4 separate regions of the Homo sapiens genome follow, and regions 1, 2 and 3 are each linked to region 4. Evidence: fine-mapped expression QTL. A gene starts in region 4. Each other region holds a variant in brackets. All regions are shown on one strand. Distances are from middle to middle. Region 1 overlaps TLE7 (TLE family member 7). Region 2 overlaps TLE7 (TLE family member 7). Region 3 overlaps LINC02136 (long intergenic non-protein coding RNA 2136). Region 4 holds the start of ZNF23 (zinc finger protein 23).

Region 1 (2,684 bases), 22 kb after region 4:
AAGACCAGCCTGGGCAACAAAGTGAGACCCTTGTCTCTACCAACAACAAAAAAAAGTGAACTTTTCTTACAAAATAAATCGAGTGAAATCCTGCTGCGAGGCCCACATTGTAGAGTTGCTGTCGAGGACTGTGGGGGAGGCGGAAAGTTGCCGGCGGGCTCCTGAGAGTGACTGAGCAGGGGGCTTTGGTAACAGGTCCCTGGGGAGATAAGAGATGGACCCAGGACAGAAATCGGAATGCAGGACTTGGGAATGCAAACTTCCCATGGCAGGGACGGGACGCGAGGTGGGTGGGAAGAGCAATGTACGATGCGGGAGACGCCACCGTGCTTGTGGGAAGGGCAGCGTCACCATGCTAGGAGGAAGGGGCCTTGGCAAGGAATGGGGAGTTGGGGCTCCCCGTGACAGTGAGGGAGGAGGTGGGAGGAGGGGCCTGGCCGTGCATTGTCCCTTCCAGGTGCCCGCCAGAGGGCGCGTCAGCCCTCAAATAAAGATCTGGAGGCTCACAGTCGCAGTTCTGCCCAGATGACCCCATCTCTGACCTTTGTGTTGGCCCACTAGGTGTTGGGGTCCCACCAGCCATTTGACGACAGCTACCCATAGCCTCCGGGCTGGGACACCTGCAGCTGTGTGGCTCTTCTAGGGGAGCAAAGGGAAGAAAACCACCAGCTAAAGTGCCTGGAGTTTGCTGGCTAAAGGGGAAGAAGGAAAAATGCTGTTGGGATTTGCAGGACCCCTAACTCATGACCCCATGTCTGGTTTTGGGTCTTTCTTGTAAAATACACATAACATGAAATTTAACACTTTAGCTATTTTTTTTTTCTTTTGAGGCGCAGTCTCGCTCTGTTGCCCAGGCTGGAGTGCAGTCGCCCGATTTCGGTTCACTGCAACCTCTGCCTCCTGGGTTCAAGTGATTCTCCTGCCTCAGCCTCCCGAGTAGCTGGGATTACAGGTGCCCGGCTCATCTTAGCTATTTTAAAGTGTACAATTCCGTGGCATTAGGTACATCACAATGTTGCACAACCATCACCACCCTCTAGTTTCAGAACTTTTTTGTCATCCCAAAAGGAATTCCAGACCCATTAAGAAGTGGCGTCCCATTCCCCTTTGCCAGTCCCTGGCAACCACTAACCTGCTTTCTGTCTCTAAGGACTGGCCTTTTGTGGATATTTCATGTAGATAGAATCATGCAGTATTGGCCTTTTGTGTCTGGCTTATTTCACATAGCATAATATTTTCAGGTTCACCCATGTGGTAGTGTGTATCACAGCTTCATTCTTTTTATGGCTGAGTAATGCTCCGTTGTATATTTACACCACATTTTGATCCATTCTTCAATTGGGGGACACTTGGGTTGTTTCTTTTTGGCTA[C/T]TGTGAATAATGCTTCTGTGAACACTGGTGTCCAAGAAATGTTTAAGTCCCTGTTTTCCATTTTTGGGGGCATATACTTAAGAGTGGAGCTGCTGGGTCACATGTTAACTCTGAGGAGTTGCCAAACTGTTTTTCACAGTGGCTGCTCCGTGGTATTCCTATCAGCAACGTAGGAGGGTTCCAATTTCCCCACATTCTCACCAACATTTGTTATTTTCTGTGGTTTTGGTGGCTGTCATAGCCATCCTAGGGTGTGTGAAGTGATCTATTACATGTGGCTTTGATTTCCATTTCCCGGATGACTGGTGATGTGGAGTGTCTTTTTCTTTTAGCTGGTTCCCAGCCTCCAGTCTTGTCCCTTCCCCCCATTCTATCCCTAGAAGAACAGCTACAGTCCTCCTTCTGAAACCCAACTCTGATTATGTCTCCCCCAGCTCAGAACCACCCCCAAATGCCTTCCAACTCTCTCTGGAAAGGAGGACACATTCCTGCCCTCCCTGCCTCCAAAACACACACCCTCTGTGCTCCAGCCCCTAGAAAATTCTCCCAATTGCTAAAATCCATTCCTTTGCCTCTGCCCTTCTGTCTGTCTGGAACATTCTCCTATGCTCTCTGCTACCCTGCTTCCCCCGCTGAGTCCTTCCATCCTTCTGACCTTACGTACTCCCTATCACCTTTCACTTCCAGGTTATGTGACTTTCTCTGGGCTCACACACCCCACCCCTTTACAGCCCTCCTCCTCCACCATGTCACTTTCCACTCTGACTTGTAATCTCCAGTTCAGTGGTCAGTTTCCCTTCAAAGAGGGAATTCCACACGGGTCATGGTCAGCTCTGTGGGCCCAGCCTCATCTCCTCAGTGCCCAGCACAGCGGGGGTCAGTAAGACTGTGCCAACTGGCCACGGGGATGGAAAGGTGGTGGGGAAGGGGCACAGGTGTGTTTGATTACTATCATTAGCCCTGTTTGCTTTCTCTGCGTGGAATCAACTTTACCCTGGTTGTGACAGTTTTGGTCAAGGGGGTCCCACCTGTTGCCCACATACACCTGAATTTCAACTATGGCACATCCTGAGCTCAAGCTGGGTCCCTCTATCCACGGCTGAGGGACAACAGGATGCACTCTCTGTCCATCTGGTTATTTCTAAAGCACCAATTGCCTTTAACTTGCCTCTGGGTATAAGAACCACGGCTCTCTTTGACTCTTGCAACTCCTCGGGCTGTCCCTATTTTCGCTTTTTTTTTTTTTTTTTTTGAGATGGAGTCTCACCCTGATACCCAGGCTGGAGTGCAGTGGTGCGATCTTGGCTCACGGC
Region 2 (2,684 bases), 30 kb after region 4:
TCCTCTGTTCAAGTGATTCTCCTGCCTCAGCCTCCCAAGTAGCTGGGATTACAGGCACGTGCCATCATGCCCGGCTAATTTTTGTATTTTCAGTAGAGATTGGGTTTCACAATGTTGGCCAGGCTGGTCTCAAACTCCTGGCCTTGTGATCTGCCTGCCTCAGCCTCCCAAAGAGCTGGGATTACAGGTGTGAGCCACCGTGCCCGGCAGGTGAGTTTGATTTTTAAATGACCAGAAATACAGTCCATTTGCATAAAAGGAAAAATACAATGCCTGGCACTAACATCTCAAAGTGCTTGTGTGACGCTTTCACCCTTGACATCATTGCCGCCAACACCTAATGTGAAAAGCTAGTTGGCAACCACTCTTTTGAATCTTTTCACCAAAGGAGACATTCTCTGCCCCTTCTAAAGAGACCCTACAGAGCACATGTGCATAGCTGCGTCTCTTTTTTTTCACCTTACAGGGGATCAGGACACACTGGGAACCTGGTGTCTGTTTGGCGGGTCTATTTGTCAAGTCCTAGAACCGGGTGGTCCAGACACCTCACTGATCTAAGAACATGAGTGGAGAGAAGGAAGAGGCATCGCTCAGAATGTTCGGGGCTTATGGTGAGCCAGAGGAGAGGAGGGATGTGCTGGAAAGCTCTGGCGTTTCCTCTCAGCCTGAGCCACAAGTGCAGCAGCAACTGGGCAGTCTGTTGGGAGTGCCCTGGCAGCCCCCGGGCCCCCCAATACAGCACAGCCCTGCTGATCAAGAGACAAGCACGGTGACCCAGCAGCAGTGGCACCTCCAGGGCCTGGGTAGATCTGAGCTCCAGGCCGCTGGGCTCCCTGATGCACAACCAGGAGAAGCAGCAGAGTCCAGCCCAAGGCAGGTCTTGCTTGAACCTGACTCAGTGGGGGTGGCAAACTGGACTGGGGAGAGGGCATCCCAGCAGGAAGCTCTGTGGCTCACACTCTGTCTCCTCCCTCCCTCTCTCCATGTGTTGTAGCTTCCTACTGGGTTCTGAGGTTGGTGAGTACCAGTCATAGTGGTGCGTGTGGTTGCCCAAGCTGGGCCCCAGATGGGGGACTAGGAACGGGGGCCTGGTGTCAACAGAGCAGGCTTCTCCCTGAAGCGTGGGACTCTGTGAGCAGGTGGGCATTGCTCTTTCCCTGCAGGCCAGCCTTACTCTTCTTCCTCTCCCAGTGAAGAAGTCCTCTCATTGCTCAGAGCAATTGTAAGTGTCCAACTTCATACTCAGGATCCTTCCTTTCCCACCTACCCCCAATCAAGAAACC[A/G]TGTGTCCACACTTTCACTCTCTCTCCCATAGGTAGGGGGGTGTCCTGGGCTCCTGCTCCTTTTGAGCTATGTTCCCTGTTCCCCCATCCTGAGAAGTAGGGTCTTCAGCTCACAGTGTCATTTCTTCAAGAGCTGTGACCCTGGGAACCAGGGGCCAGGTTCTGCGGTTGGGTGGGTGGATGGGTGGGTGGTTAAGAATCTAGCTGGAAGACGGGGTGGACTGTCCTATTAATGATAGCAGGTCAGGGCCACTGCTACCCACCCTCTCCTTGCCTAGCCCCCCATTCCAGATGAAGTTGTGGTCAGGCAGAAGAGGGCCCCACAGGGCTCCTGGAAGGTTGGCACACTCTTCCATGGAAAGAGAGTCTACGCTGTGGCCATCAGCGGCTCAACCCACCACGTGTACACGTGTGGCTCTGGCTACATCAGGGTATGGGATGAGAGTGCGCTGCATGCGGGGGAGAAGGCCCCTCGGGCCCAGCTGGACTTGCAGGTGAGGGAGATCCAAAGCAGGACTCAGGGAACTCTGACAGGGCCTCTGACGTGAGACCCAGGTTCGGTGCCCCAAGGGGATACCAGTGTGTGAACCCTTCCTTACAGCATCCCCAGGACCGTGTTGTTACCTGCAAGCTGTTCCCTGATGAGCGGAGCCTGATCACAGGGGGTGCGTCCCAGGCCGTGACTCTCTGGGACTTGGCACCCACCCCCCAGGTCAGGGCACAGCTGACCTCGACGGGCCCCACGTGCTATTCTCTGGCTGTCTCCTCTGATGCCCATATCTGTTTGGCTTGTTTCCATGGATTTGTTGAGATTTGGGATTTGCAGAACCAAATCTTGATCAGGTATGACCTCTCTCCAGAGCCACTCAGGTGTACCTGGGGGAGGGCTTGCCAGTGAGGCTCTTTCCCCTCTTTGCATTAGGGCTGGGCGAGTCAGTGTAGAAGATATATCTGGGGTACTCCTAGGGGCTTCCTGACCCTGAAACTTCCCGGGGGCCCAAACCATTCAGTGACCCTCTGAGTTGTTTTCCCACCCACCAGGAAGCACGAAGTTCCTGTATACGGGTCCCGATGTGTGGACATCACCGGCAATATATTCTGGACAGGAGGTGAAGACACCATCCTGTATTCCTGGGACCTGAGGAGCTACCAGAGGCTGCACCAACACAACTTACAGAATGAGGTGCCCGGCTGGCCACCACTGGCAGAATGCCACCTGTAGTGGAGCCATGCATGGAGGCAGGGGTGGGAGTGTGAGCTTGAGAGGTGGGCACAAAGGATGGCGTTGGCAACTTTGAGTGCTGACCTCAAACCTGCTTCCACGAACAGATCCTCAGCATTACCCACGACCCCGGTGAAGAATGGGTATTGGCGGGCCTGAGAACGAGTGATATCGTGTTC
Region 3 (2,684 bases), 40 kb after region 4:
GCTCTGTTGTCCAGGCTGGAGTGCAGTGGCATGATCTCAGCTCACTGCAACCTCCGCCTCCCAGGTTCAAGTGGTTCTTGTGCCTCAGCCTCCTGAGGAGCTGGGATTACAGGCATGTGCCACCACTCCTGGCTAATTTTTGTATTTTTAGTAGAGATGGGGTTTCACCACATTGGCCACGCTGGTCTCGAAGTCCTGACCTCAAGCGATTTGCCCGCCTCAGCCTCCCAAAGTGCTGGGATTAGAGGTGGCCACTGCGCCCGTCTTTGGCTGGCATTTGGTCCTTTCCCTGGCCTACCCCAGCTCTCTGCTCACCAGACTGTGCATCTGAGACATCCAAGAAGTCATCACTTTTGTGAGGACAGACAGCGCCATCCACTCAGGTTTTGTCTCTACTGTATCCATCCCAGTGTCTCTGACATGGAAAGCCATCTCTCTCTAGGTGTGGTTTTTTTTTGTTTTTTTTTTTTTTTTTTGGTTTGAGAGACAGGCTCTCAAGCTCTCTCACCCAGGCTGGAGTGCAGCAGAGTGATCACTGCTCATGGCAGCCTTGAACTCCTGGGCAATCCTCAGCCTTGAACTCCTGGCCTCAAGCAATCCTCCTGCCTCAGTCTCCGGAGTAGTTGGAACTACGGGTGCACACCACCACATCTGGCTAATTAAAAACATTTTTTTTTGTAGCAACAGGGGGTCTCAAAGTGCTGAGATTACAGGCATGAGCCATGGCACTTGGCCCTTTCTTTCTTTCTTCTTTTTTGTTAGGGGCTTCCTGGAACTTGAATCTTGAGAGAGTCAATGATTTCATCATGCAGTGAGAGGAAAAATTCCCTTGTGTATACGGGGCCCCTGATATGACTTCACCAACAGGGTCCAGAAGATTCCACAGTGGGGCACTAATAAGAGAGGAGCCCAACACAGTGGCTCACACCTGTAGTCCCAGTACTTTGGGAGGCCAAAGCAGGAGGATTGCTTGAGCCCAGGAGTTTGAGACCAGCCTGGGCGACCAAGTGAAACGCCTATCTCTACGAAAAAAAAAGTTAGCTGGATGTGGTGTCATGCACGTGTAGTCCCAGCTACTTGGGAGGCTGAGGCAGGAGGATCACTTGTGCCCAGGAGTTTGAGGCAGCAGTGAGCTAAGATCATGCCACTG[C/T]ACTCCTGCTTGAGTGACAGAGACCCTGTTTCAAAAAATAAAGGCTGGGCGCAGTGGTTCACACCTGTAATCCCAGCACTTTGGGAGGCCGAGGTGGGAGGATCACCTGAGGTCAGGAGTTCGAGACCAGTCTGGCCCACATGGTGAAACTTGTCTCTACTAAAAATACAAAGAAATTAGCTGGGGTGTGGTGATGCATGCCTGTAATCCCAGCTACTCAGGAGGCCAAGGAGGGAGAATCACTTAAACCCAGGAGGTGGAGGTTGCAGTGAGCTGAGATGGTGCCACTGCACTCTAGCCTGGGCGATAAAATAAAATAATAAAATAAAATAAAAAAGAAGAAGAAAGGAGAACCTCCTGGGGCAGGTCACTAAATCCACCATCATGCAGAGTGAAGCTGCCCAGGGCCTCTGGTAGGGTTGTCTGCAATTTCTGGCCCTTCCTCCAGGGGGAAGCCTTGCATTGCATCTTACACCCCAGTACGTGGCCATGGATGCAAAGGGCCCTGTGCAGGAGACCTGGACTGGCTGCGTGACCTTGAGAATGTCTCTTCCCCCTCTGGGCTTGTTTCTCCTCTGTGAATGATGGGGTCAGTCCTGGAAACCACTGTGCGCGGTTGCTGGAGTGATCTATTTATCCCCAGGTCTGCCATGCTTGGCTGTGAGACCTTTGACAAGTATCTTAACCTCTCTGTTCCCATAAGATGGTGATCATACCTGAATCTACTTCACTGGGCTGCTGAAGGGAGGTTATATTATAGAGTGGACAGAATGTGCCTAGCACGGGAAGGCAGTGGCTGGCTGATCACTGATTGTCACTGATCACTGACTTGCGGCCACTTAGAGATGGAGGATCCCTCCTGGCCTGGCTGAGCCCTCTCTCCTCACCACCTGGTGTGGAATGGGTCCAGTTATTCTCAAGACCCTCTGCTAGGAAGTAGGAGTGGCTTCCAGAGCTGCCAAATTTCAGGCCTGTCTGTTATATTCCCCCGGTTCCCACCGGGATAACTGAGGAATGCCTGCCACTCACCCACAAAAAAGGATTTATTTACAGTATAAAATTTATCATACATTTCTTTTCTTTGAAGTGAACATAACCTCAAGATTTTATTGTCTTCATAATAAAACAAAAGATGAAATTTAGAACTGAATCACTTGGCCCTTTCTCTTCTTATCTCCTCCCAGTTCAAAATGCTTGCATGTCCTCATAGCCCGCATCGTCTTAGATCTGTAGCTGGGCTCAGCGCTCAAGCCTCAGCACCATCTCCTTTGTAGTTTTAGCCTTTTTCTGGAAAATCGGCTTACAGAAATCAGTGGCCTTGATATACACAAACAATACTTAGGTTAGAGGACTTAAGAAAACCCCATGTATAATAGCAACAAAGAAGATTAAATACTTAGAGATAAACTTAATAAGAAATGTGCAAAGTCTATAAAAGGAAAATTTTACAACACTTCTGGAAAACACAAAAGCACGTGGAGTGGGAAGACTACCTTGTTTTTGGCTATCACAACTCATCATCAAGATGCCCATT
Region 4 (2,684 bases):
CACACTTCCAGTAACAGTCAAGATGGAGGGTAGGAATGGGAAGGGAAGGGCATTCTAGATTTAGAGAACAGCATTTTTAGCATGTAGGGCTGAGGTAGAGTCAGGGAATGAATGGGAGTGATAAGAAGCCACAGAGGCAAGTGGGAGCCAAATACCAGTCTCCAGTGCAGCAGCGTTGGATGGATCAGAGCTGGAAGGAAGAAAAGCCCACATTACCAGGGTTAGGGGGTGTGTGAGGGGGTGGGGATTTTAAGGGTCGTCCAATCCAGTGGCATTTAGTACTGTCTCCCTTCCCCCAGGGCTCATTTTGGAATTTTATGGTAGGTATTTTGTTATATTTGGTGTCAGTGGTAACATTGCTACTAGCGTTGTGGATAGGAGCCAGGATCCTGCAATGTACAGGACAGTCCTGCCCACTGAAAAAATGTTCACACTTTCAAATGTCTTGCTGAACATTCAGGTAGGTGAAAATTCTATTTCTAAATTATCTGAATCTAAACCTGTTTTCTGGATAAACATGTATTTTTGCACAGTTTTAACATACACTGATCTTCCAGGAATGTAATTATTGTATAATCAAGAGACGATTGTCCTGTGTTTCATTCAGAACTTCACGAAAACATGTTTGCCATTTTGGATCATAATTTTGTGACTTTTGCAACAATGTAAGTCACAGCTTTGTGGCTGTGGCACTCAGACAACGTCTATGTGTAAAGGCGACCACCTTATTAGGTCTCCTGCAGCAGCCAAGACCAAACACATTGAAGTATGTGTTTTTAAACGACAGATGACGGTCCTCTTTTTTTTCTCTTTCATTACACTTAAGGCATAACATTAGTTTTTAATATGTAGGTGTGTATGTTATGTATGATTTTCTAGGCCATTATATATGAATATCAGGTCAGGAGAATAAGATGGACATTACAAACTATTTGTTAGAAAAAGGGGGCATTGGGTGTGACAGCGCGCCATCCACTGGTCCATTTCCAAGACTCCCACACGTGGCTGCACCTGCAGCTTCACCTCCCCGGGCTGGGTCCCCGCTTGGCTCTGATTCTTACCTGCCCCATTCCCCAGGGGTAACAGTCACCGTGGGCCAGACCCGAGCTAGCCGACAGGGATGCGGCCACAGCTGGCCGGGCGTGACCACCACCGAGGCGCAGCGACCTTGCTCCTAGAGAGGCCCGGCCGCCTGGTGACGCACTTCCGGCAGCGCCGGGGAGCAGTCCGCTACGGAGGTGAGTGCAGGGCTCCGGGCGCTGTGTGCCGTGCCCTGTCCCCCAGGCTCTGGGTCCGGTTGAGACGCACTCCCACCCTGGGTGCTGCAGGGTCTCCCGTGGCCTACGCTGCCAGGAGGCCCAGGCTGGGAGAGGGAGCAGGGCGGCGGCCCGGGGTGCTCTTCCGCGCTCCTCGACTCCAGCTTTGGTCTTTGTGGCTCAATAGCTTGCGCCCATTGGAAGGGGAAACGCACGTTGCTGTCCCAGCCACGAGGCCCTGAGCATTTAGCACTTGGTCGACGGGGGAAGATGTGTCGGTGCAGCTAAAAGATGGAATATTTGCGGGCGTGAAGCGGCCCGAGGTGATACCACAAGTCTTTTGACATGCTGAGGTCTGGCAGGAACATTAACCTATGTGCATCCCGAGTATGGACCGTGTGCTCCCAGGCTCCTGACATAGGGTCATGAATTAGGGCCGAGTGGGAGCGCAGAGCCCCTCCCAGTCACCCGGCAGCAGAAGCAGCCCGGCTTTTGGAGGACATTGTCTCCTGGAGCAGTGTCAGTCCCAAAAGGTAACTCAGCCCTGCTTCTCTCGGCTCAGGGTTGACAGTGACCTGGGAATGACTTCTACAACGTAATTACGAATTCACTCAGTTTTAGAATATATTTAGTAGTCTCAGAATCGCTAATTCATACCCCCATGAAAAGCAAATTTACTACCTAAAGTACAGTACTTGGATACAGGTCTTTTTGTCTTTACTCTTATGGTATTTAGTCAAAATACTGTTTTCCAAAGTTGCTTACCCCTTTTCTTTCCTACCACTTAAGTGTGGTTATGTTCACTGTAGTATAGTTAAGCACATTGGCTGTTCTTTGTATTACATTTTGGGTCCTCAATTTCACCCCATCCTTGCTGGTTTATATATTTATTTAAAATATATATTTATATGTTACATATATAGTAGTAAACATCCATGAACACACCACCCAATTAAGAAAGAGAAGATTGCCAGTACTGCTGAATTTATCAATGTGTTCCTCCTCCTCAACCCAACTCCCAGCCTCCAACCCCTAGAGGTAACAGTTATATTGACTTTTGTGTTAATTGTAGCCCTGTTATTTTAAAAAATAATTACATATGCATGTATCTGTAAGCAATGTACTTAAATTTTTTTTTTGAGCTTCATATAAATGGCACCATTGTGTGTATAAGTCATCTGGGACTCGCATAATTCAATGTTAAGTTTCCAAATTCATTCTGTGTGTAGCTTCTGGGTAATGTTCCATTGTAAAAACTGTATGAAAATTTATCGATGTATTTTCAATGGACATGTGGGTTGTTTTCAGTGTTTTGTTATTAAAATGTGCTGATAATATTTTTGTACGTACTTCCTACATATGAGAGTTTCTCTAGTGTGTAAGTTTTTAAAATTAGGCACAAATGTTGAATTATGTTAAACATCTTTG

The links. PIP is the estimated chance that this variant, and not a neighbour inherited with it, causes the effect.
Region 1: its variant is fine-mapped to the expression of ZNF23 in whole blood (TOPMed, PIP above 0.99).
Region 2: its variant is fine-mapped to the expression of ZNF23 in whole blood (TOPMed, PIP 0.92).
Region 3: its variant is fine-mapped to the expression of ZNF23 in prostate (GTEx, PIP 0.97).

Annotation. Positions count from the first base shown.
Region 1 is chr16:71,438,621-71,441,304 of GRCh38, reverse strand. The region is part of intron 1 of TLE7 (TLE family member 7); the gene reads left to right. Among named protein-coding and RNA genes, the nearest start is that of TLE7, 2.1 kb to the left of the region's middle. The variant C/T (reference allele first, on the strand shown) is at 1,372.
Region 2 is chr16:71,431,203-71,433,886 of GRCh38, reverse strand. TLE7 (TLE family member 7) reads left to right here. Exons shown (of 10, transcript NM_001367365.2): 2 at 467-873; 3 at 995-1,017; 4 at 1,164-1,222; 5 at 1,562-1,777; 6 at 1,885-2,126; 7 at 2,325-2,466; 8 at 2,613-2,684. The coding sequence starts at 563. Among named protein-coding and RNA genes, the nearest start is that of TRM-CAT2-1, 6.1 kb to the right of the region's middle. The variant A/G (reference allele first, on the strand shown) is at 1,284.
Region 3 is chr16:71,421,127-71,423,810 of GRCh38, reverse strand. The region is part of intron 1 of LINC02136 (long intergenic non-protein coding RNA 2136); the gene reads left to right. Among named protein-coding and RNA genes, the nearest start is that of LINC02136, 4.0 kb to the left of the region's middle. The variant C/T (reference allele first, on the strand shown) is at 1,151.
Region 4 is chr16:71,460,764-71,463,447 of GRCh38, reverse strand. It overlaps ZNF23 (zinc finger protein 23), which reads left to right and starts at 1,201. Exons shown (of 5, transcript NM_001381984.1): 1 at 1,201-1,238. LOC124903709 (a long non-coding RNA gene) reads right to left here and starts at 1,136. Exons shown (of 2, transcript XR_007065105.1): 1 at 156-1,136. RefSeq lists enhancers at 1,083-1,242, 1,513-1,602.